Regions from separate parts of the Homo sapiens genome. Here region 1 is linked to region 2. The links come from fine-mapping of genetic effects on gene expression. A gene starts in region 2. The other region holds a variant in brackets. All regions are shown on one strand. Distances are between the middles of the regions. Region 1 holds the start of GIT1 (GIT ArfGAP 1). Region 2 holds the start of TP53I13 (tumor protein p53 inducible protein 13).

The links. PIP is the estimated chance that this variant, and not a neighbour inherited with it, causes the effect.
Region 1: its variant is fine-mapped to the expression of TP53I13 in monocytes (BLUEPRINT, PIP 0.95).

What each region holds. Positions count from the first base shown.
Region 1 is chr17:29,586,881-29,597,717 of GRCh38, forward strand. It overlaps GIT1 (GIT ArfGAP 1), which reads right to left and starts at 2,768. Exons shown (of 20, transcript NM_014030.4): 1 at 2,447-2,768. The coding sequence starts at 2,498. ANKRD13B (ankyrin repeat domain 13B) reads left to right here and starts at 6,252. Exons shown (of 15, transcript NM_152345.5): 1 at 6,252-6,855. The coding sequence starts at 6,742. RefSeq lists enhancers at 1,050-1,949, 2,849-3,748, 7,371-7,440 and silencers at 2,167-2,356, 2,617-3,096, 4,857-5,046. The variant A/G (reference allele first, on the strand shown) is at 3,873.
Region 2 is chr17:29,563,299-29,574,469 of GRCh38, forward strand. It overlaps TP53I13 (tumor protein p53 inducible protein 13), which reads left to right and starts at 5,403. Exons shown (of 7, transcript NM_138349.4): 1 at 5,403-5,532; 2 at 5,720-5,788; 3 at 6,020-6,061; 4 at 8,293-8,421; 5 at 8,559-8,759; 6 at 8,844-9,399; 7 at 9,514-9,859. The coding sequence starts at 5,461. The coding sequence ends at 9,626. It overlaps ABHD15 (abhydrolase domain containing 15), which reads right to left and starts at 3,739. Exons shown (of 2, transcript NM_198147.3): 1 at 2,788-3,739. The coding sequence starts at 3,668. It overlaps GIT1 (GIT ArfGAP 1), which reads right to left. Exons shown (of 20, transcript NM_014030.4): 20 at 10,177-11,171. RefSeq lists enhancers at 2,680-2,789, 4,810-4,859, 5,943-6,443 and silencers at 3,310-3,929, 4,020-4,279, 5,280-5,639, 9,593-9,662.

The sequences.
Region 1 (10,837 bases), 23 kb after region 2:
GACGAGGTGGCACAAGCTGCCAGAGCAGCCATGTCATGTCCAGCTGCCTAGCAACACACTCACACTTGTCCTGTGTGCCCATGCCCGGGAGCAGAGGGAGGATGGGGCTCTCTGGGGACAGGCTGCATCTCACCTCTGACCTCCATGACCCCCCAAATTAACCAAGCACAAAAAGTCCCTGGCCCCACTCCTGTGGTTAGGACTGCAGGGCTCCTATCATAATAAAAGAAGCCTGTGACCCTGGGGTGGAGCGATACACCATGGGGCTGGCACTGGATCTGGACTCCGGACTGCTGGGTACCCTCATGCCTCTCTGCCTGAGATGCCACAGGACCCAGACCAAACATGCCGCTGCATGCCAGGGCCAGCATCCTAGGGTCCAGGTGTGGGATAGTCCCAAGCAGCCAGCCAGGGTCCTAACAAGCAGCCAAACACTCAGGGAGTGCCTGCCATGTGCTGGACACCTCGCTGGGTGCTAGGTGGGCTGATGAGTAAGACTGTCCACATCCTCCCCACCCCACCATCCTCACCTTCTCACCACCTTCCTGACCTCTATTGTGAATCAGGGGAAAGGAGGCATCTGGGGCACAAATTCCTCTGACAGATGAGGACCTGGGAGGAGGAGCTGGGCAATCCAACACATCTGATGCCCACCATTCCTCCCTGAGCCCACTGGGCATCCAGAGGCTGTGGTCGGACATTCAACGCAACATACAAAGGACAACTGCCTTGCTGGTGCTGCCCTTCACCCCTCCACCCCAGAATCAGACCACAGATTCGGAGATGGCAGCCCCCCAAAAACCATTTCTACTCCAACTTCTTTGCCTCTGAATTGAGGAAGCTGAGGACCCCACAGTGAGGAAAGTCTTGTTGGGATTACAGAGTAAGCTGGGAACAAAGGCAACACTAAGCCCCAGACTCCCCCGATTGGGCGCCTGCTAAGACTCTCCTCCACATTCCATGCCATGCTTACCCCACGGAGTTGTGGAACAGTGGGGAGACATTTATAAGGCAAGGTGCATCCTCAGCCCTGCCATCCCCAGACCTGCCTGCAGCTCGGGGAACGGAGTCACAGTTTCTTAGGGGTATGGACCCTCAACCCCAGGGCCCTCTAAACCATGATAAGCCCCTAGGAGGCCTTGGTCATAACCACCTATGGAGTATTTTGTGCCCAAGCCCTGCTAAGTCATAGTTCCCAAATACTCTAGCTTGGCACCCCCAGAACCACCAGAGCATCTGTGAGGCTCAACCGGTGGGGTCCTGGGCCTGCTCAAGGGGTGGCTGAAAGTTATGGGCCCACAAACCAGCACCCCATACTCTCACTCTTAATCATGCCCACAGCCCCGCTAGAGTTCACGGACCTCCGCAGCCTGCCCAGGGGCCTACCAGGGAGATAGCTCCTTTGCTAAAGAAAGAATGGATGTGGGCTAGAGCTTCCTTCCCAGGCCAGCTGCAGAGCCCCGTCACTGGCTGTCCTCCCTCATCAGAAGGGAGCAGCCTCTTGGATCATTACCCCTGACTTCCTCAGCAGGCCTGGGGGGTTTCACTCCAGCCCAGTCCTAACTCTGTTAGGAAAAGGAAGGGAACCACCATGTAAATACAGCCAGGAGACAGGCCAGGAAGCCAGCAGGATACGGGGAATCTCGGCACGGCCTCCCACCCATTTCTGGCCAGACTGGGCTAGGGGACAGGGAGGGGCCCGCACCCAGGATAGCTTGATGCCAAGCTCACTTTCCCAAGCAGGCCTTACCGGTGAACAGGAACAGCAGGGTCCAGCCGAGCTGTTCCCAGTCACCACCAGCAGGCCTGGGGATGCCTCCCGAGAAGACACCCGGGTCTAGACTGGCCCTGAACGCCAGGCCCGGCAAGGAGCGCTAGCCTTAGGAACCCGAGGCAGGGAGTCCTGGGAGTAGCCACCGCTCATCTGCTCCTGAGGAGACGGTATTCAGGCCCCACTGGCGCATCTGCCCGGCCCTCTGCTCCTTGCCCTCCACCACCCCGGCAGGCGTACCGACCACGCGAGCAGCAGGTGCAAGACGCGGGGGTGGCACTGAGATGACATAAAACCACACTCGCCCCCACCTCCCAAGCCCTGACGGCCTCCGCCACGGCCCTCCTGCCACCCCAGGCTGGCGCTTCCGTCGGATACAGAGATGGAGGTGGAGGAGCAGCCAGCTGCCCGCCTCCCTCAGACCGAGGAGCGGGAGGCGGCGCCGGGAACGTCCTTCCTCGCTAGTCCACGGCCTCCAGGGAGCATGGGCACCCCAGGCCGGCCCTCCCGCCAAGGGCGCAGCTCCGCAGTGGCCGAGGCGGGGGCCCAGCCTGGAGGCCGCAGCCCCCCGCCCCGCCCAGCCCTCCGGCCCCGCACAGCGCTCTTGCCAGGCCCCGGCGCCCGCCCGGCGGCGGCCTGGCTGTGCGGTCCCGCCCCCGGCCCCGCCGCGCTTACCCGGGGCGCTGCAGTCCGCACACACCTCCGCTCGCGGCCCCTTTCGGGACATCCTCAGCGGCGACGCGGCCGCAGCCCTCTGGGCCAGCGTGGGGGGCGCGGGCGGCGGGCCCGGGCGGCGGCGGCGGCCCCTGCTGCCCGGCCCGGCTCCGGCGAGGCCCCGGCGAGGCTCCGCGCGCCCGGCCAACCGTCCGCCCCGGGGCTGGCCCGGAACCCGCCGTGCCCGCCTGCCCGCTCGCCCTCGGGCGCCCTCCGCCCCGCGCCGCCCCGCCGCCGCTCGCGGCTCCTCTCTCCGCCCCCTGCGCGGCTCCCGGCCGCTTCTGCAGGAAGCGGCGCAGGCCCTGCCCACAGGGGGAGGGGCCGCACCCCCGCCCCGCCGCGCGCTGCCGGCCGCGCCCCCTAGAGAAAGGAAGCCCGGGCGCGGGCAGGAGGGGGCGGGGGCGCTTAAAGGGGCCGCGGCAGATGCCCGGCCCCGGCGGGCAGCGTGGCCTGCGGCCCTGGCCTCCGCTGCAGCGCTCGCCTGGCCCGGAGGCAATGTGAGTCACCCTCACAGCCCCCTCCCCTTCACTTTCCGCGTGGGGTGGACCGGGGGACGCTGGGCCCACGGACGGCGAGGGTGGGGATTAGGGAAGAAGGACTTGGAGGCCCAAGTCCCGCTCCAGGTCAAAGGGGCTGTGCCTTGGGGTACCCGTCTATCTCTGGTTGGGGTGAGGTGTGCGTCCCTGTCCCGTAGGTGTCCACATCTGTGTGTCCAGGGGTGTGTGTGTATGTGTCACACTCTTGCTGAATACGCCCACTGCTAACAATATGGACGCCCAGGTGCCAGAAAGGTCAGGCAGTGTATTCCCCTGCCTCCGGACTAAAAATATATCTATCTCTCCATGCATCCTTCCATCCAGAGAGGAGAGAATCTGGGCGGTTTTTAAAGACCTCCCGAGGAGTGACCACTGTGCCTGTGTGCACTCACATCCACTTGTCATCCGCCTTACACACACCCACGGTGTTTCTGGGCCACCAGAGGTGTGTGTGTCCAGAAAGGGTGCATATAACATAGAGGGGCCGTTTCAGGTGACGGCCTTTCTTCCTGGACTTCACACGACGAGGCAGGCAAAGGCAAGGCAGGTGAGGGACGTGGGTGGGCTGGGGGGCAGGGAGCCTAGGTAGAGGCCGCACATGAGCGCAGCCCCCGCACTGAGCATGCGCCCCCATACGCGTGTGCCGCGCGTGTACCCAACCCCCAATCCCTGCAGCAGCAAAAGGCCCGGGCACTCTGCTTGTGGGGAGAGGGTAGAGGTCCCCAGGGCCAGACCTGGGGGCCAGGTCAGTGGTGACAATTGAGGAGGGGTTCTCCAAGAGTCAGAGACTCCTGCTTGTTAAGATGGGGGCAGTCCTTTGGCAGGGGTGCTCAAGTTGGTCGATTATCCCA[A/G]CGGTGCCAGAGCGGCAGTGATTTGTGGGTGGGCAGGCTCCTTCCCTAGGGGAGACAAGTAATGCTCATGAGTCACACCACCCGAAATACATGCAAAGCTGCCTCCATCGCCTTTTGCTGCGGCCCAGATTGACAAGTTTGTTTGAAATCGCGATCCATGGGCTTTATTTATAATTGCACCTTAAAAAAATCTTGCAGGCCTCCCCTCCCTCGACAGCCAGCCGCTCAGCTGGTGGGGCTTTTGCAAGCAACGATACCTAGCTGGTGTGTAGGGGGGAGCACCACCTGCCGCCCCGAGCTGCTCTCTCACCAGAGTCCATGGGCTTGGTGGCCTCAGCGGGAAGGGGGTAAGGGGCGGGGGGAGTGAGACGGGAGGAGTGGCCAGGCAGCCCGTGCCAGGCGCTCAGTCCACGAGCGGTGGCCGCCCGTTCACCCCCGATCGACCCCCAGCTATGGAATTTCATTTATTAAATGTCGAGGAGGCTGCTGGCAGCCCTGCCGCTTGGCTGTCTTTGTTTCTCCGCTGTGTGGGCGCGTCTCGAGCACGTGGCAGCTGAGAGCGCGGGCCGAAGCGCAAGCGACCTGGGTTCAGTGTCTACCGCCGCCTGGCAAAAAAAGAACACGGCCGCCCAGGGGACAGTTCCCCACAATCGACAACTCCCCACAATCCATCCTGAACTCCCCCTGTCCTCGGACTCCTGGGCTTTGCTGGGGAAGAAGGATGATTCACTCTGCTTACCCCTCCACCCCACTCCCCATCTCCTGGTTGGCTCAGAGACTACCTGGGAGTGGCCCTGGCGCGGACACATCGTCCAAACTTTGTTTCCCCCAGCCCCGTCACAGCCAAACTTCTGGGCCTGGGACTGGAGATAAAAGGGTTTCTGGATTCCCCCGTGGAGATGTCACCACCCCAGGAAGCAGGACTGCTACAGTGGAATCACACACAAGGTTCGAAAAACAATTTAATAAGGAAATGCACAGGCATGCTCCCGGCCACTCCTAGATGCCCCTCAACCGCGCCAGCCCCCTCCCCTGCACTGGCTGCAGCCACGACACTCTGCTGACCCCTGGTGGTGCAGGCGGGCAGCGGTCCCGGGCCCCCGGAGACGCCAGCTGGCTCCTCCCAGGCGGGAGAAAGGGGCGAGGCAGCCCGCTCCTCCCTCATCTCTTCCCGCTGGGGCCTGGCACCACAGGGTGTGGAGGAGGAAGGAGGGAAGACCACACAAAGAAACCTGAGAGAGTTTGCAAGCTTTTGCTGGCACCTCCCACACAAACACTTCTTGGATTGTTGTTTTAAGTAGGGCCGGTGTGGAATCCCTTATTCCTGCCTTGTTCTGAGGTGGGCTCAAGAAGGCACCGTGCCTGGTCCCGCCACCTGTCTCGGCCCGCCTGGTTGGGGGAGGGAGGCGCTGTTTCCAGGGCAGTCATTATCCTTAGCTCACCCCAGGAGGTAGTATCTAGATTCTCATTTTGAAGGGGAGTGGACCGAGAAAGTCGGAAAAATTAAGCAGTTTGCTCTTTTAAGGTCAGGCAGTTGGAGCTATTCGAACTCTGGTCTCTCTGACATCACAGTCCCCTCCCTCCAGGGACTGGTCCAAGCCTCTTGGTCCTTCCAGGCCTTGCAATTGGCGCTTGAGAGGCCAATTCAACTTTTACCACACCCTCTGCAGGGACCATTCTGGAAGTACCTCTTCACCCTGGGGTCATTCAGGAAGGAGACAGTCTCTGGAATCAGTCACTTCCCTTCCTGAAGGGCCAGCTGGGTGGAGGAACGGAGCTGCCACCTGCTGCTTTTTCTGTCCAACCTCACTCTGGTTCTTGCTGGGGACAGTGTGCGGGGGGAAAGGGACCATCTTTCCCGCGTTACTGGACATTCTGTTTCCAATGACATGTGTGGAAGATGGAGTTTAATTTTCTAACAGGGCAGGGAAGACTCCTCAGAAATGTTCCAGGGGCCAGACCCCTGGCTGCTCCAATGACCCTTGGTACTGATGCCCCACACCTTTCTCAGGAGTTCCCAATCAGACGCTCTCTTCTGGGAATCCGGATCCTTCTTCATGGCCCCTGGGACCCAAGCTCAATTCTGAAGACCACACCTCCACCCCGTCTCCCAAACGCTCGACCTAGGCCCGTGCCCCCCCACTTCCCCAGCAAAAGGCAAAATGCCAGCGGGGGAGGTGCGTCCCAGCCCACCTGGCGTCAGGGCCCCGCCCGCGTCTGGGCCAGGCCTGACTCCCCGCCCACTCTCCCACGAGATCCGGGGACAGTGCAGACCCTCTTCGGCCACCTGCCACCCCCAGTTTCACGAGGCGGACTACAAACCCCATGATGCCGCGGGGCTGAGCTGACAAGCTCTACCCGGGGCGCCTGGTCCCCTTCCTCTCTCCCCATCATCCCCACATCCCCGTATCCCGCGCCGGCCGCTCGGGCTGAGGGCCGGGCTATGCAGCTGTGGGGACCCGGGGGCTGCGGGCGCGCGTCCCTGCGGCGGCGTCCCCGGGGCCCGCGTCCCGTGCGCCCCCGCGCCCGCTGCGGGCGCCTGCTCCCTCCGCCGAGCGGCGTCTTTGTGTGCGGGGGTGTGGGAGGCGAGCGCGAGTCCGCGCAGCGCCGCCGAGTGCCCGCTCCCTCCCAGGGCGGGTGGGGGCCTCTCCGCGCCGCCCGCCGCCGCCGCCTCGCGAGGACGCCCGTCGCCCGCGCCGCCCGCACCGCGCCGGGCGCGCCGCCCCCGCCCGCCGCCGCTCGCACATGCCCGAGCCGCAGCCCCGCGAGCAGGCAGCGCCGGCCCCCCGCCCCGCGGCCCCGGGCCCCGGCTCCGGCGCCGTCCCTCCTCCCCGGCCGGGCGCCGCGGCCCCGGCATGAGGAGCGGGCGATGATCCCCGCCAACGCCTCCGCCAGGAAGGGGCCCGAGGGCAAGTATCCGCTGCACTACCTCGTGTGGCACAACCGCCACCGCGAGCTGGAGAAGGAGGTCCGCGCGGGCCAGGTAGGAGCGCCTTCGGGGCGCCGCGGGGACCCCGCGGCCGGGCACGCCCGTCCGGCCTGGGGAGGGGGTGCGGCGCGGGCTGTCCCGCCTCCCTGGCGAGTTTGCGGCGCGTCTTTGTTTGCGGCCGCGGCTTTTGTGCTTGTTGACCGGGAAAGGGTGATCCCCTCCGGCCGGGACGGGCGGGACCACACGTGTTTCGGACTCACCTAGATGAGAGTAGAGGCCTCTGTGCCCCTCCTCCGCCGGGGCAGTGAGGGCTGCAGGGAGGGGCTGCGGGCTGTGTCGGTGTTCCATGTGGTGGGAGAGTCCGCCCCAGCCAGTTGAGCGGCGACACCTCCCGAGTGAGGGTGCGGAGGTGGGAAAGGCTTGCGTGGGGAGGGGGCCATAGGTCAAGAATGGGGAAGAGGCTGTGTCACACTCCCAGGCACCCCAGCCCCACCCAGCGCCCTCTCCCCAACGGTGAGCGCTTTCTCTTTTAGCTCTCAAACTGGGCAGATCCTTGGATCTCTCAGAGCCCAGCCCCAGCTCAGGAACAGGGAGTGGAGAAAGACCCTCTTGGGAGGCCCCAAGGGCCTTGTCCAGGTGCTGAAAAGCGCTCTCCTGCCCTCTGGTGCTGGGGCCTGGTTTCTAGGCGCAGAGGAAGCTGAGGGGCCCTGGCTGCTGGAAGGACTTGAGGTTCTGCGCACCAGGTGGGCTCCCTGGTTTCTGCTGGTCAGTAAGGCCACGTGGGTCACCAGCTTTGGGCTGGGCAGTGGTCTCCAGAAAACAGGGGAAGGGGGGATGTCTTCTGGCCATGCTTCAGGATGTCTTCTGGCCATGCTTCAGAACAAAGGCAGGCACAGGTCACAGATTGCCACTTCTGCCCTTGGCACCCAGGCCACAGGTAGGCACTCATGGCAGAGATGACCCCCCGCCTCCAGGGTGGGCTGCAAGAGCCAGAGCTGGGCCCGGGTCCCATGGCTTGCTGCAGGCTGAGAACCCCAGTTTTGGACTGGGTCTGAGACCTTGGGGCCATGGGCTGGGGGTGGTTAGCGCAGTTGCCCGCTGTGGGAATTTACCTTCTGAGGGCTGCTTATTGAGTCATGAGAAGTTCAGTCTGAGGAGCTGTGCAATCGCCAAGGGAAGCATGGAGGTGGAGGGCAGGCCATCGGACTGAGCAGGCTGGGGGTCAGGATGTGTCTCTGAAGTCCCACGCTGAGCCAGCCCCCAGGCCTGCATGGCATCCAGCTCTGCATGGCAGTCCCTGTAAATATGCGAGTGACCTGTGCCCGCAGGCCTCTGGGCCGGTCTGGGTGGCCACTTCCTGTTACCTGTGCCTATGCCAGCACTCTCCGAGTTTCTCCTCAGACTGAACTCCTCAGACCCTGTCTTTGTTTATCTATCATAAAGGCAGTGCTCTGCAGCCACGAGAAGCCTGTTAAAGAGAGTGGGTCACAGTGCCCCCAGGAAACAGATGAACAAACAGGGCATCAACCCCTGCCCTCAAGGAGTCTCTGTTCTGGTGAAGCAAGTGTGAACAGGAAATTCCAGGGTGATGTGCAAAGCGCTAAGACATGGCCAGCCAGCCTCTGCTGGCTCTTCTCTGCTTTCCTTCCCTGAAAGCAAAAGAAGACAAGCCTCATGTGGGAAGAACTTCCCAGGGGTCCAAGGATCACTAGGCAGAAGGCTGAATCTCCAGAATGCCTCAGTCCCACTCCCTTGCCTGAGGGTGGGTGGTCCTTTTACTGCAGAGACTGGAGAGAGGCAGAATGCCCTGGGAGAAAAGACTTCTCCAGCAGGCCTCTCTGCTGATAATCCTGAAGTGGGTGGCCATCTTGCTGGGGTAAGGTTGGGGTGGGGGGCACCGGAGCCGCTGCAGGTAGAGGTGTTGGGGGCTGCTCATGTGTTTCTCTCTCCCACCCCTCTGGCTGCCTCAGAAACAAGGTCCCAGATTCACCCCTACCCCTGCCCCAGTGAGTTAATGTCTCCTTGAAATGGACACTGCCTGTCCTGGATCCAGGCCAGGGGGAATATAGGGCACTGGTGGAGGTTAACCCTTGTTCAACCACAGAGGAGCCAGGCCAGTCCTCTCCTTCCCTCAGGCGTGCCAAAAAGAGGAATGCCACTCCGTGTAGGTGGGAGAGTTCCCTAGCTGTCTCCCCTCTCGAGGACTGGCCCAGAGTGAGGCTTGTATCCAGATGTACACTGCCTACTCCCCAGGGCACCAGGCTCTGTTTTCTGCAAGGGGGACCTGGGGACAGCCACCTAACATCATGAGAAAAGCACTGTGGAACCCTGGCATCCCAGCCAGGGGTCCCTGGCCTCTAGTCCCCCTGGTACCAGCCGCCACAGAAACAGCTCGGCTTTCCTCAAGCACTCAGGAGCCAGGTTTCCCTGGTCTTGGCTTGGCATAGCTGCCTCTTCTTCACTCCAAGAAAGCCCCGCAGAGGCCCTCCGTGGGCAGGCTTGGCAGTGCAGCTGGCTGAGGAGGGGGCCAGCATGGCCACCTTCAGAGCAGGTTAATGGGCTTTGCTCAGCCCCAAATTGCTCTGCTGGAGGCTGGAAGCAGGGAGTGATGGGCAGATAGGAGGTGCCTGGTGAAGGGAAGGGGCACCCAGCAGTGCTGTGATGCCAGCCCGGTGCCCTGCTTGCCGCTATGCATGTTCTCTGCCAGGTCGGGGGGGACAGGGTTGTAAGCCAGGGAATATGCCAGTTCCCCCTTGCCTGGCATGGCCAGCTGGGCATGGTCCTGGTTCTGGAGTCGTGAGTTCCTGGTGTTCCCTGGGGTGGGAACAGGGGGAAGGGTTAGCCTGTGCAGCTCCCGTGGGAGGGACATGTGTGGGCTGGGCCTGGGGAGCAGGACTCTGCCCCTGGCAACCAGAACCCTGAAGTGGGCAGATTGTGGTCCCAGAGAATCATTTTCCTTCTCCCTGGGGCGTTCTCCACCGTGGGCTTGCTTCCTGCTTTCCCTGTTCACCCTTCTGACCTAGAGGCAGGGGAGATGGGTTGTGGGGCCCAGGATGTGCGAGGAGCACCTCAGACCCCTCCCTTTGCCTACACTGGGCAGTCCTGGATGTGGGGCATCACCACAGCTGGTAAGCTAGGAAGCTCGGGAGAGGGAGCCACAAACCCCAGAAACCAAAAATCAATGTGTTCTGGGATGAGGGGGAGGGGCTGCAAGGGCAGGATGGGAGGGGTGACATGGAGGGAGAAGTCCAGGGTGCGGTCCCCACAGCCCGTGGCCTCCTACGCAGCTTGAGGATGCATCCTGCCTCCCTCCCCTTGAATGAGCTCAGGCAGACCTGCCCCTGCACCCCACGCTGGGCAGGAGAGGTCAAGCAACGACTACACCAGACTCCTGCCTTCCTCCTCGTGGGCTGGGGAAGGGGCTGAGCAGGCACCACCTTGAGCACAGGCTCTGCGTCCCTCACCTTCCTCGCAAGCACTGTGTTTAGTCCATACATGAGATGTATGCTTTTCATACTTCCCTTAACAAAAGGATTCTGCTCATGCTAAAGGAGTTTGGAAAGTACCCTGCTAGTGCACATGGGTGTGAGGGGTGTTCCTGTGCAAATACGCACACACACGTTACACAGGAGTGGACTCCTGCAGGGCCAGAAGGCAGCTGGGCATGCATGTGCTTGTACACTTAAGGGCACACGTGAGTACCTATGAGCGTACGAGTGTGTATCTGTATGGTACCAGTGTGTACTAGAGTGTGGTGTGTGTGCCTGAGTGGAGGTAGGGAGGCTCTCTGCCCAGGGACCCCCAGCTACAAAACTCCAAAGACTCCACCTTTTGACTCCAGCTGAGGCCTGCTGGGATAAGGAATCTCCGTTCTCTTGGTGGGGAGGGCTGGGTGTTGGGTTTCATGGGAAACCTTTTCATTCCAGCAATTAAATAGCTAGAGGCCTCTGCTGAGGAGAAGCTGGAGGCCTCTGCTGAGGAGATTAATGAATTCTCCTACCTGGGCCCAGGGCAAGGTGCCACTTACACTGCAGGC
Region 2 (11,171 bases):
CACTCTGGGAGGCCAACGAGGTGGGTGGATCACTTAAGTCCAGGAGTTTGAGAACAGCCTGGGCAACAGGGCGAAAACCCATCTCTAAAAAAAAAAAAAAAAAAAATTAGCTTGGCATGGTGGCTCAGTCCCAGCTATTCAGGAGGCTGAGGTGGGAGGACTGCTTGAGCCTGGGAGGTCAAGGCTGCAGTGAGCTATGATTGCACCATTGCATTCCAGCCTGGGTGACACAGAGAGACCATTTCAAAAAATAAAATAAAATAATATAAAATAATAAAAGTGGCCAGGCGCGGTGGCTCATGCCTGTAATCCCAGAACTTTGGGAGGCTGAGGCAGGTGGATCACGAGGTCAAGAGATTGAGACCATCCTGGCCAACACGGTGAAACCCCATCTCTACTAAAAATACAAAAATAAGCTGGGCGTGGTGGCGGACACCTGTAGTCCCAGCTACTTGGGAGGCTGAGGCAGGAGAATCACTTGAACCCAGGAGGCAGAGGTTGCAGTGAGCCGAGATCGTGCCACTGCGTTCCAGCCTGCTGACAGAGCGAGACTCCATCTCAAAAAATAAATAAATAAATAAATAAAATAATAAAATTAGAAGATTTCACATAAAATGCAGGTGTCTGGCTTCTCTAGGGAAGTGGGAAGATCCAGCCACATGGGTGGGCATTTCTCAGCACAACAATGGGTTCCTCCCTCCTTCCTGTGTGACGGTGCCCACTAGGCCTGTCATTCACAGCATCACTGCACCTGTCTATGTGCCCTAGGGGCAGCATTTGACTTCACAGCTGCTGACAGTTCTCCTAACCTCAACTTCTGGCCCTCTGTGGAGAACTTGCTATGAACTGTAACCTACTAAACTGCTCCTAGAAGAACTTGCTGCTCAGAGTATCCAAACCAGCAGGTGACACCTCTGCTAATAATTCACATTTGACTTTAGGTTGCATTCATTGTTTTTATTTTTGCTTTTTAAACTAACATCCTGTCCTGGTAATGTCACATGAGTGTGATGTTGATCAGGTATACCTGGGGCAGATATTCCTAGAGAGTGTGCTGCCTGGCAGAGGAAGCAATTGAGTTGGTCATTAATTTACTGGGTGGATTCCTAAATGGGGGCCTCAGAGCAACTGCTTTGGGTAACAGGGAACATCTTTGCTGTTTCTAGACCCCTGGAGAGGGCTTGGCATCCTGACAAGGAGGCCAGGATGAGCAGCTCCGTCTTTTGAATAGCTCAATCCAGCCTCAGACAGTTGAAATTAGATGTTAATCTCTGACCAGGCATAGTGGCTCACATCTATAATCCCAGCACTTTGGGAGGCCAAGGCGGGTGGATTCCCTGAGTCTAGACATTCAAGACCAGCCTGGACAACATGGCACAATCCCATCTTTATGAAAAATACAAAAATTAACCGGGCATGGTGGCATGTGCCTGTAGTCTCAGCTACTCGGGAGGCTGAGGTGGGGGTCTGGCCCCCACATCCCAGGTCTTTCTGCTACACCACACTGTTGCCATAATGACTTCGACCTCATTCTGCCATCTCCTAAGAAAGCCAGAGTGCAGGCTAGGAATGTCACCTGAGCCCAGGAACTCAAGGCTGCAATGAGTGGTGATTCCACCACTGCACTCCAGCCTGGGCGACAGAGTAAGATCTTGCCTCAAAAAACAAACAAACAGCTGGGCACGGTGGCTCACACCTGTAATCCTAGCACTTTGAAAGCTGGGGCAGGCGGATCACTTGACATTAGGGGTTCCAGACCAGCCTGGCAAACATGGAGAAACCCCGTCTCTACCAAAAAAAATATTAAAAATTAGCTGGGTGTGGTGGTGCACGCCTGTAGTCCCCAGCCACTTCAGAGGCTAAGGCAGGAGAATAGCTTGCACCCAGGAGGTGGAGGTTACAGTGAGCCGAGATCATGTCACTACACTTCAGCCTGGGTGACAAAGTGAGACTGTCTAAAAAAAAAAATACTTTTAAAAAATAATAATTTTAATAAATGCCTACATATATGCGTGTGTGTGTATATATATATATAACATTTTTTTTTGAGACAGGGTGTTGCTCTGTCACCCAGGCTAGAGTGCAGTGGCCTGACCAGGGCTCTCTGCAGCCTCGAACTTCTGGGCTTCGGTGATCCTCCCATCTCAACCTCCTGAGTAGCTGGGACCACAGATGCATGCCACCACACCCGGCTAATTAAAAAAAGAAATTTTTGTAGAGACAGGTTTTCCTATGTTGCCCAAGTTAGTCTCAAACTCTTGGGCTCAAGTGATCCTCCTGCCTTGGCCTCCCAAAGTGCTGGGATTACAGGCGGGAGCCACTGCACCTGGCCTCAAATGCCACCATATTTCTGATTCCTGTCACCTCCAGGCTCAGAGACTGTGAGTAAACATTCTGGGCAGATAATCGTTTGCAATTGCTTCCAGAGTGCTCTTTGCTGAGCTGTTAAGCTGTGGGCTAAGTGGTAAATGTCAGGTATCTCTGCTGTCGTGGGCCAGGTGCTCAGATTGCTAGGATACAGCAGGGGGTGCCGAGATGAGGCAAGGGGCCGGGTTAGGAGTCCCTGCTCTAGCACAGCGATACTAGCTGAGTCCATCGATGACCTTTAAACCCGCTTCCCCGGTTCTGTCTAGATTACAGGGTTTGGAAGGCTTTGGAAGATGTGTTCAGAGAACTTTGCCCAAACTGGCCCACGCCTGTTCCAATGCTATGCATAGCTGTTTCTGATTCTTAGCCAGCTCAGGCCCTCTATTCTTTCCATGCTGGTCTGCGGCCTCCGTTACCCACCTGCTGAGGGCGATCTTCTGGTGGAGCAGAAAGCCCCGCTCGTAGGGCCAGGGCAGGCCGGCCTCGAACCACTCTCGGCAGCGCAGCACGGGCGAGATGCAGGCGGCGCCTGTCACGTAGCTGGAGGAGCCGCACTCGCCCAGGTAGGACAGGAGCAGCGCCGAGCCCGAGCCTTCGCTCACCGCGAACAGCGGCGCCGCCGGGTGTCGGAAGCGGATGTATGTGACCGCCTCCTTGAGGTCGGACGGGTCCCCGAAAGGCTGCAGCCGGGGGCTGACCAGTGGGCAACCGTGGTGGCCGCGGCGATGGAAGATGACCGGGTAGTAGCCGCGCTCCAGGGCGAGCAAGCAAAGGCCGAGCACGTTGCGGGTGAGGCGACCCCACGCATTGGGGATCACCAGAAGCACCGCAGGAAGGCCCCCGGCGCTGGTGATCCGGCGGCCCCGAACACAAGGTCCTACCACCCAGTCCAGGGCCACTAGCCCATCGTCCGCCAACTGCAGGTACTCCCGGGCCAGCTCAGGCCCAGGCGCTACGGGCAGGACGAAGTGGCAGAGGGTCTGCAGGTGGGGCCCGGAGAACCAGGAGCGCGGGCCGGCCTCCAGCGCCTCTGAGCGCCGCAGGGCGCGCAGCAGGCACTGGGCCAGGGCCGACGGCTTGCAAACAAGGCTGCACCCTCCCGGCAGTGGCTCGCGCCCGTCGCTGAACTGGTCCGCCGGGCCTCCGCCGTCCGCCTCCTCCCCGTCGTCTCGGTCTTGGGCCCCCGGCAGGGTCCTCTCTCCGACGGCGCGCCCCCAGGGTCCCCGGAGCCGCGGGCCGAGCAGGCCGAGAAGGGCGAGCACGGCCAAGATGAGCGCGAGGGCGGCGCCCCACGGCGGCATGGCGAAGCTGGAGAGCCCCGGCGGGCAGCGGGCGGCGGGGCCGTCTACTCGGCGAGCTCCGCGCTTTGCCCGCGGCTCCGCCCGCCGGCGGCGGCTGCCCAGGGCCCTCCCGCGCGGGCGCGCTCTGGATTGGCCGTGGCCGGGCAGAGGCAGCCAGTTCGGGCCCGGCTGCCCTCGCCCGCCCCCCACCCCCGCCCCGGCCCTTTGTACAGCAATTGCAACAAGTGGGAGCAGAGGGTGAGAGGAGCCGGGGCCACCAGGGAGGGAGGGCGCGCCGGCAGCCGGAAGGGAGTGGGGAGGGCACGAGCCGGGGAGAGCGGTGTTGGCCATGGAGACGTGGGGAGACTGGAGGCCGAGGCTTGGGGACCCGACTGTCATCAGGGTCTTCCGCCAGACCCTGGGCGCTGCGCCCTCAGAGGCCGATGAAAAGAAGCAGAAGGGAGAGGTGAGTAAGTCGCAGCTCCGGGCGCCGGCTCCCGGGACCCCGTGGGGCGGCGGCCGCGCGCGCGCTCTGCCCTCGGGCGGCCCTGCTCTCCCCCGCCCGGCCCCGCAACCCCGCAATAACTTGGCTGGGCGGGGTCCGGCACTGGGCTAGAGAGGTCGAGCGCGGCGTCTTGAGCCGCTGGCGGGAGGCTGCTGCTTCCCCGCCTGCATCAGTGCGGGTCCCGTGGACTCCTCGCCCCCGTCCCCGCGAGCTCGGGGCTCCACATCAAGGAAATCCTCAGCCCGGGAGTGGCTTCCCCAGAAACAGCAGCCCCAAGCCTCCGAGAGTCAGTCGGAGAAAAGGACACACTCAGGCGCCCTGCGACAGGGATGCCCGTCCGACCTACAAGGAACGCCTCGTAAACCGGGGTGCATGGGAGACCACGGAAATAACACGTTCTCGCTGTTTCCAAGCTTTGGGATAGGCATCTCGACCCTCGCTCTCTACCCACGTTTCCCCCCCAAATCCTGGAGAGGGAACCAGAACCAGCGCCCCGCTGCGGGGCGGGCCGGCCAGCGCACCTCCTGGGGGTGAGGCCTGTGGCGTCCCCATCTCGCGGCGACCAATCTCTTTCTAGACGCGCGCCTGCCACCGCTGGGCGACGGCGGAGGTGGGGAAGACAGCAGCCTCTCGGCTAGCTCCGGCCTCCCGGGGCTTCTGGGTTTGGAGAGTTTGGGGAGCGGAGACACCTCCCGAGGCTCCTCCGCGTTGGACCCTATTTGCGAGGGCGGGAGCGGGGTGGGCCGACGGCGAAGCTCCAGAGGTGGGACCCTCTCCCTTCAGCAGCTCTTCCTGACTTCATGATTCTGCCCCTCTTCTCATTGCAGGTCACACCGACAAATCTGAAGCGGGTTTGCCAGGGGAGTGTACCCGTCTCCCCAGCCTGGGCCACCCGGTCCACAGGGATTCCATTTCCGGCCTTACACTCCGCTCCACGATCTCATCCAGGCGCTGCAGCTGTGCAGCTGCTCTACAGACTGCAGGGACCTGCTGAGACGAATCCCCGGACGAGGAAAGGGGCCCCCCGCCTGCCCTACTGAGCCTTGCGCGCTGACCCGGTTCCTACACTTAACTTTTCCGGCTTCGGGTTTAAGACGCGTGCGCGCACACTCCGCTGCTGTGGGCGGGCATTGGGGCGGGGCGATACCGGGGGCCCACTGTCTGGGGAGGGGCGCGCGCGAGCCCAGGGCCAACGGACGCGCGGGCGGCGCGGGCGGCGCGGGGGCGCTGGGGCTGGAGGGGCGGGGCGCGCGCGCTCCCTCGCTGGCGGAGCGGCTGGGCGGCGGGCCGGGCCCGGGGCCGCTTGGAATGGCGCCTCCTCCGCCTTCGCCCCAACTGCTTCTCCTGGCAGCCCTCGCGAGGCTCCTGGGTCCCAGCGAGGTAAGGTGACCCGCTCCTGGGAAGGCCTCGGCCCGCGAGCTCAAAGCGCTTTGCCAAAAGTTCGTCCTGGAAGGAGTGGCGCGCCGAGGGGGACGCGGAGTTCTTCCGCTGGCGGGCTGGGCCTGGGGAGAGAGAGGGCAGGGCCTCGCCGCGTCCAGCGCCCCAACTCTTCGCTTTGGACCCACAGGTGATGGCTGGACCGGCGGAGGAGGCGGGAGCCCATTGTCCCGAGAGCCTGTGGCCTCTGCCTCCGCAGGTAGGAGCCCTGGAGGGCCCAGGGAGAGAGGGATGTGAAAGGCTAGCCCAGTCCCGCTCTGTTCTCGCCGCACCCTCCACAGTCACCATCTGAGGACCTCTGCCGGTTCCTCAGTCCTCAGTAGCCAACTTCTCCATCCCAGCCTGGCGCTTGGGGCCTGCCGTCCCCTCCCCACCACACACACACGGAGTCCCCCAACTGCCCTAAGCTCTGTTCTTTCCCCATGTATAGGTGTCACCAAGAGTGACCTACACACGAGTGAGCCCAGGGCAGGTGAGTACAAGCAGGGGCCCACCACCCTTGGTGTCCACGCCTGGAGACAGGCGCTCCTAGCAGGCTTCGCTGCCTGTTCTGCTGATCGGCCCCATTCCTTACCACTTCCCTCAGGCAGAGGCAGGGTTCTAGTTCTCTGCCCCACCTCCAAGCCCAGGACAGATCAGCCCCAGGACAGATGGCTCAAAGACAGTGAGCCATAGGCCTGTCATCTGCAATGCTGTGTCAGGATGCTGTTGGGTAGCTGGCTCTGTGGACAAGTGGCTGTGAGTGGAACTCTCTCTGAGAGTAGCTGGAAAAAACCCAGGCTCCAGCTCCCTGAGGAGACAGCGGGAAGTCTCCTGACTTTGTGGGCCCCAGCTTTCTGTAGGAGAGGGTATTAATTCTGTCTCTACCTGTGAGCAGCGAGGGAGGGTATGTGCCAGCACCGTGTACAGTACAGAGCTGCATCGTGCAAGGAGTGTGCCTCCAGTTGCCAGGCTCCACACTGCGGGCTCAGCTTGCGTGGTAGCATCTCCATCTTCATCGCCAGCTCCTCTGAATTTTCCTTTGAAATACTTATTATTATTATTATTTGAAATGGAATCTCACTCTGTTGCCCAGGCTGGAGTGCAGTGGCACTCACTGCAACCTCTGCCTCCAGGTTCAAGCAATTCTTATGCCACAGCCTCCCGAGCAGCTGGGATTACAGGCGTGTGCCACCTAGCTTAGCTAATTTTGTATTTTTAGTAGAGACGAGGTTTCACCATGTTGCCCACGCTGGTCTTGAGCTCCTGACCTCAAGTGATCTGCCTGCCTCAGCCTCCCAAGTGCTGGGATTACAGGTGTGAGCCACCATGCCTGGCCTGAAATACCTAACTTAAATTGGCCAGGCATGGTGGCTCACACCTGTAATCCCAGTACTTTAGGAGGCTGAGGCGGGTGGAACACCTGAGGTCAGGAGTTCAAGACCAGCTTGGCCAACATGGTGAAACCCTGTCTCTACTAAAAATACAAAAATTAGCTGGGCGTGGTGGCACACCCCTGTAATCCCAGCTACTTGGGAGGCTGAGGCAGGAGAATTGCTTGAGCCCAGGAGGCAGAGGTTGCAGTGAGCCGAGACCATGCCACTGCACTCCAGCCTGGCGACAGAGCGAGACTGTCTCAAAAAAAAAAAAAAATTCTCTGTAATAGCTCCAGGCCAAGAGTTGTTGCCTCACGCCACCTATCAGATTCCTTTCCTCAAACAGCCCTTTCATGAAGTCATTCCTCTGTTCACAAACTGTCAATGGCTCCTTATTTCCCACCTTATCGTGGCCATATTCTCCGGCCTGGCTTTTCAGGCCTTACTTAAGTAAGCTTCGTCTGACCTCTCCACATCCTTGGTTCCTCTCCAGTTGTGTCGGGCTGTTTGCCACACAAATGAGTGCCAGCCTCGCCCTTACCACAGCCCCTTTGCTCCTGTTTATTCTCCTCCACACCTGGCCTATCCTGACTCGGAGAGTGCAGCTCCCTGCCCTCCTGCCATACTCCCCCAGCCATCTTCCCAGTCCCAGCTGGCATCAGCTCCCCCTGAGACACTGCCCGATGGCATCAGCCTTTATTCCTCCCCTCCTCCTCTGAATCTATCTCTGATAATTTAACAACTAATCACTAAGTTTTATTAGTTTGCTGTTTTATTTGCATTAGTTGTTTCCCTGAGTTTCTCACACACTCCTTGCAAGCAGAGTCCAGGAGTTCTTTGGCATCTCCCACAGCATCTAGCACAGCACTGAGCACCAAGTCAACTCAATCAAAGAATAATGAATGATTGATGGAGTATTTCCATCCTGAGATTGTGCACCTGCTGCCTGCCTGCCCTGTATTTGGATGCTCTTGGGAGACTGTATAGATTGGATCGATGGTCTTCATTTGGGGGTTGCTTATGGCTTGGATTGTGGACCTGTAGAGCCATCGTTACACCTGCAGGGAAATATGGCTAGAGTGTGGTCTGAGTCTGGCAGGATTATCCAGGCATGCTGTGAGCTTTGAAGGGTGGCACTTGATGGAGAGGAAGGGTGAAAGGAACACTCAGAGGCAAGAGTGGGTACATGCCAATACCCAGGGCCCTTTGTCCTTTCCTGGGCCCTGAAGGTAGAAGAGCCATCCAGCTATCCTGGGAGTACCTTTAAACTGGTCCCCTGGATGGGAGAACTTGAGATTCTCTGGGAGGGCTCTGGGCCTGCTTTGATGTCTCTGTGCCTTTCCTCCAGGCTGAGGATGTCACCTTCCTCTACCACCCCTGTGCCCATCCCTGGCTGAAGCTCCAGCTTGCCCTCCTGGCCTATGCTTGTATGGCTAACCCTTCCCTCACCCCTGACTTCAGCCTCACGCAGGATCGGGTATGTAGCTGATGAAAGGCGCTTGCCTGGCCCTGGCAGAAGGCTATGGCCCCGTGTGCAGGGAATGGAAAATTCAAGGGTTTCCTCTTGTTTGTCCCCACCTTCCTCGTAGCTCTAACAGTTACCTCCTCTCGTAGCCCCTGGTGCTGACTGCATGGGGGCTGGCGCTGGAGATGGCCTGGGTAGAGCCAGCCTGGGCTGCCCACTGGCTGATGAGGAGGCGGAGGAGGAAGCAGAGGAAGAAGAAGGCATGGATCTACTGTGAAAGCCTTTCAGGGCCTGCTCCCTCCGAGCCAACTCCCGGTAGAGGGAGGCTGTGCCGAAGAGGGTGTGTGCAGGTGAGAGACGCTGGGCCCAGGCTTGTTGGCCCTCGGGTTCTCTGAGAGGGGCAGCAGGGTGATTGCTCTCTCTCCTCTCCTTAGGCCCTGGCTCTGGCCTTTGCTCTGCGGAGCTGGCGGCCCCCTGGCACAGAGGTGACATCTCAAGGGCCCAGGCAGCCCTCTTCTAGTGGTGCCAAGAGGCGGAGGCTGCGGGCTGCCCTTGGTCCCCAGCCCACTCGCTCAGCCCTGAGGTTTCCCTCTGCTTCCCCAGGGAGCTTGAAGGCCAAGCAGTCCATGGCGGGAATCCCTGGTAGGGAGAGTAATGCCCCATCTGTGCCCACTGTCTCCCTGCTGCCGGGGGCGCCTGGAGGCAATGCCAGCTCCAGGACAGAGGCTCAGGTGCCCAACGGGCAAGGCAGCCCAGGGGGCTGTGTCTGTTCAAGTCAGGCTTCCCCGGCCCCTCGCGCAGCAGCGCCTCCACGGGCAGCCCGGGGCCCCACCCCACGCACTGAAGAGGCCGCCTGGGCTGCCATGGCCCTGACCTTCCTGCTGGTGCTGCTCACCCTGGCCACGCTCTGCACACGGCTGCACAGAAACTTCCGACGCGGGGAGAGCATCTACTGGGGGCCCACAGCGGACAGCCAGGACACAGTGGCTGGTGAGGAGTTCCCTCCCTACCCTACCCGAGGCCCCCGCCCCACCTCGCGTCGCCCGCCGCCCCCCGTAGCTTCCCTGCCCTCCCGCCCTTGACTGCTCGGCGCCCGGCCCACAGCTGTGCTGAAGCGGAGGCTGCTGCAGCCCTCGCGCCGGGTCAAGCGCTCGCGCCGGAGACCCCTCCTCCCGCCCACGCCGGACAGCGGCCCGGAAGGCGAGAGCTCGGAGTGACGGCCTGGGACCTGCCACTGTGGCGTGCGGCTCCTCCCCGCGCCGCGAGGCCGCGACCTCTGCCACGTGGACCGCGCGCGGGGCGCTCCCTGGTGGCGATGGCGCGGCACTGGCCGAGCACTGCGGGGGCTTTCCTCCTTGTTGGTTGCTGAGTGGGCGGCCAAGGGGAGAAAAGGAGCCGCTTCTGCCTCCCTTGCCAAAACTCCGTTTCTAATTAAATTATTTTTAGTAGACTCTGGAGTTGAGCTTGTGCATCTGCCGCACAGAGACTCCCACCCGGACCCTCGTCCTAGGCCATGGAGGTGGTGTTTGAGGCAGCCCGCCCCCGCTGGCCAACCTGTCCCTGGACATGGGGCTTTAGGAATGTGCTCGTGGGAGGGTGGCGTTATCGTCATACATGTTAGCTTTGTTATTCGCAAACTAACTCTTCCACTAGACAGACGTTCCCAGCACAGGGGCTTCCCTAGGGCGGGGGTCCTGGGGCACTTGCAGTCACCCTTCATGTCTGCCACCTCCCTCCAGCCCCCATTCTCTAAGCATCAGAAACAGCTCATGGTCACTTCTTTATTTTTGATACAAATGTACATGACACGTCTTGACAGCCCACCCACCACCACACAGGTAGGGCCTGGCCCCCAGGGAAGAAGCGGGATGGGGAGAGAGCTGGTGGGTCCCACCGTCTGCCTCTCCAGCCTTCCCAGGCTGCAGCCAGGTTCCCAGGCCTCCAGAGGGTGGGACCACAGCAGGTGCAGGTAGTGATGGTGGGTGCTGGCCTTGCAGAGGTTACGGGGAGGGGACTCAGCTCCACAGCCACCAGCTGAGTCGGGGACCCCGGGGAGCCAGCCCCAGGCTCAGGTGCTCAGTCCTCCACCCTAGCCAGCACACATTCCCCCTCCACGCAGGAGCAGGAGGAGATGGAGGGAAGTGGTTTTTGATTTAAGTTCATAGAGAAGGGGCGAGAGTGGGGAGGGATCAGGGAGGCAGCTGGCAGGACCAAAACTGGCTACCCGGACAGTCCCTGGCTCCAGGTGGGGAAGGGAAGCTGATCCCCATGCTGGTCCCACTGCTCTGGTCCCCTCACCCCTCAAAACTCCAGATGGACCAGGCCTCCGGAACGGCACTGCCGCCCACACACTCAACACGCAGGCACGCGGGGGCACTCAGTTACCACAAAGTTAAAATTAAGGGGTGGGGAAGAAGAAAGAAAAAAAAAAAACAGACTTTCCAGTGTTTGCTGCTGGGGACCCCAGCACACAGGTTGGGGCCTGTGCCCTAGGCAGGGGCCATATGGCATTAAAGGGAGAGCAGCAAGGGGCTGGTGGCTACAGGGCAGGGACATCCATGGAGACTATGTACAAAGGAGGGGATGCCCCCGCTCAGCCCCCAGTAGGGCTGAACTGGCTCATGGGGGTGGGGCGCATGTACGGAGAGCTGCCCCACTTGGAGTGTCCCCACCTGCCCCTTTGCTGAGGGTGCCCTAGAAGGCGAGGGGCTGGGAGTGATGCCTTGCAGGCCCCTGCTCACTAGGAGGGGGGAGATGCTATA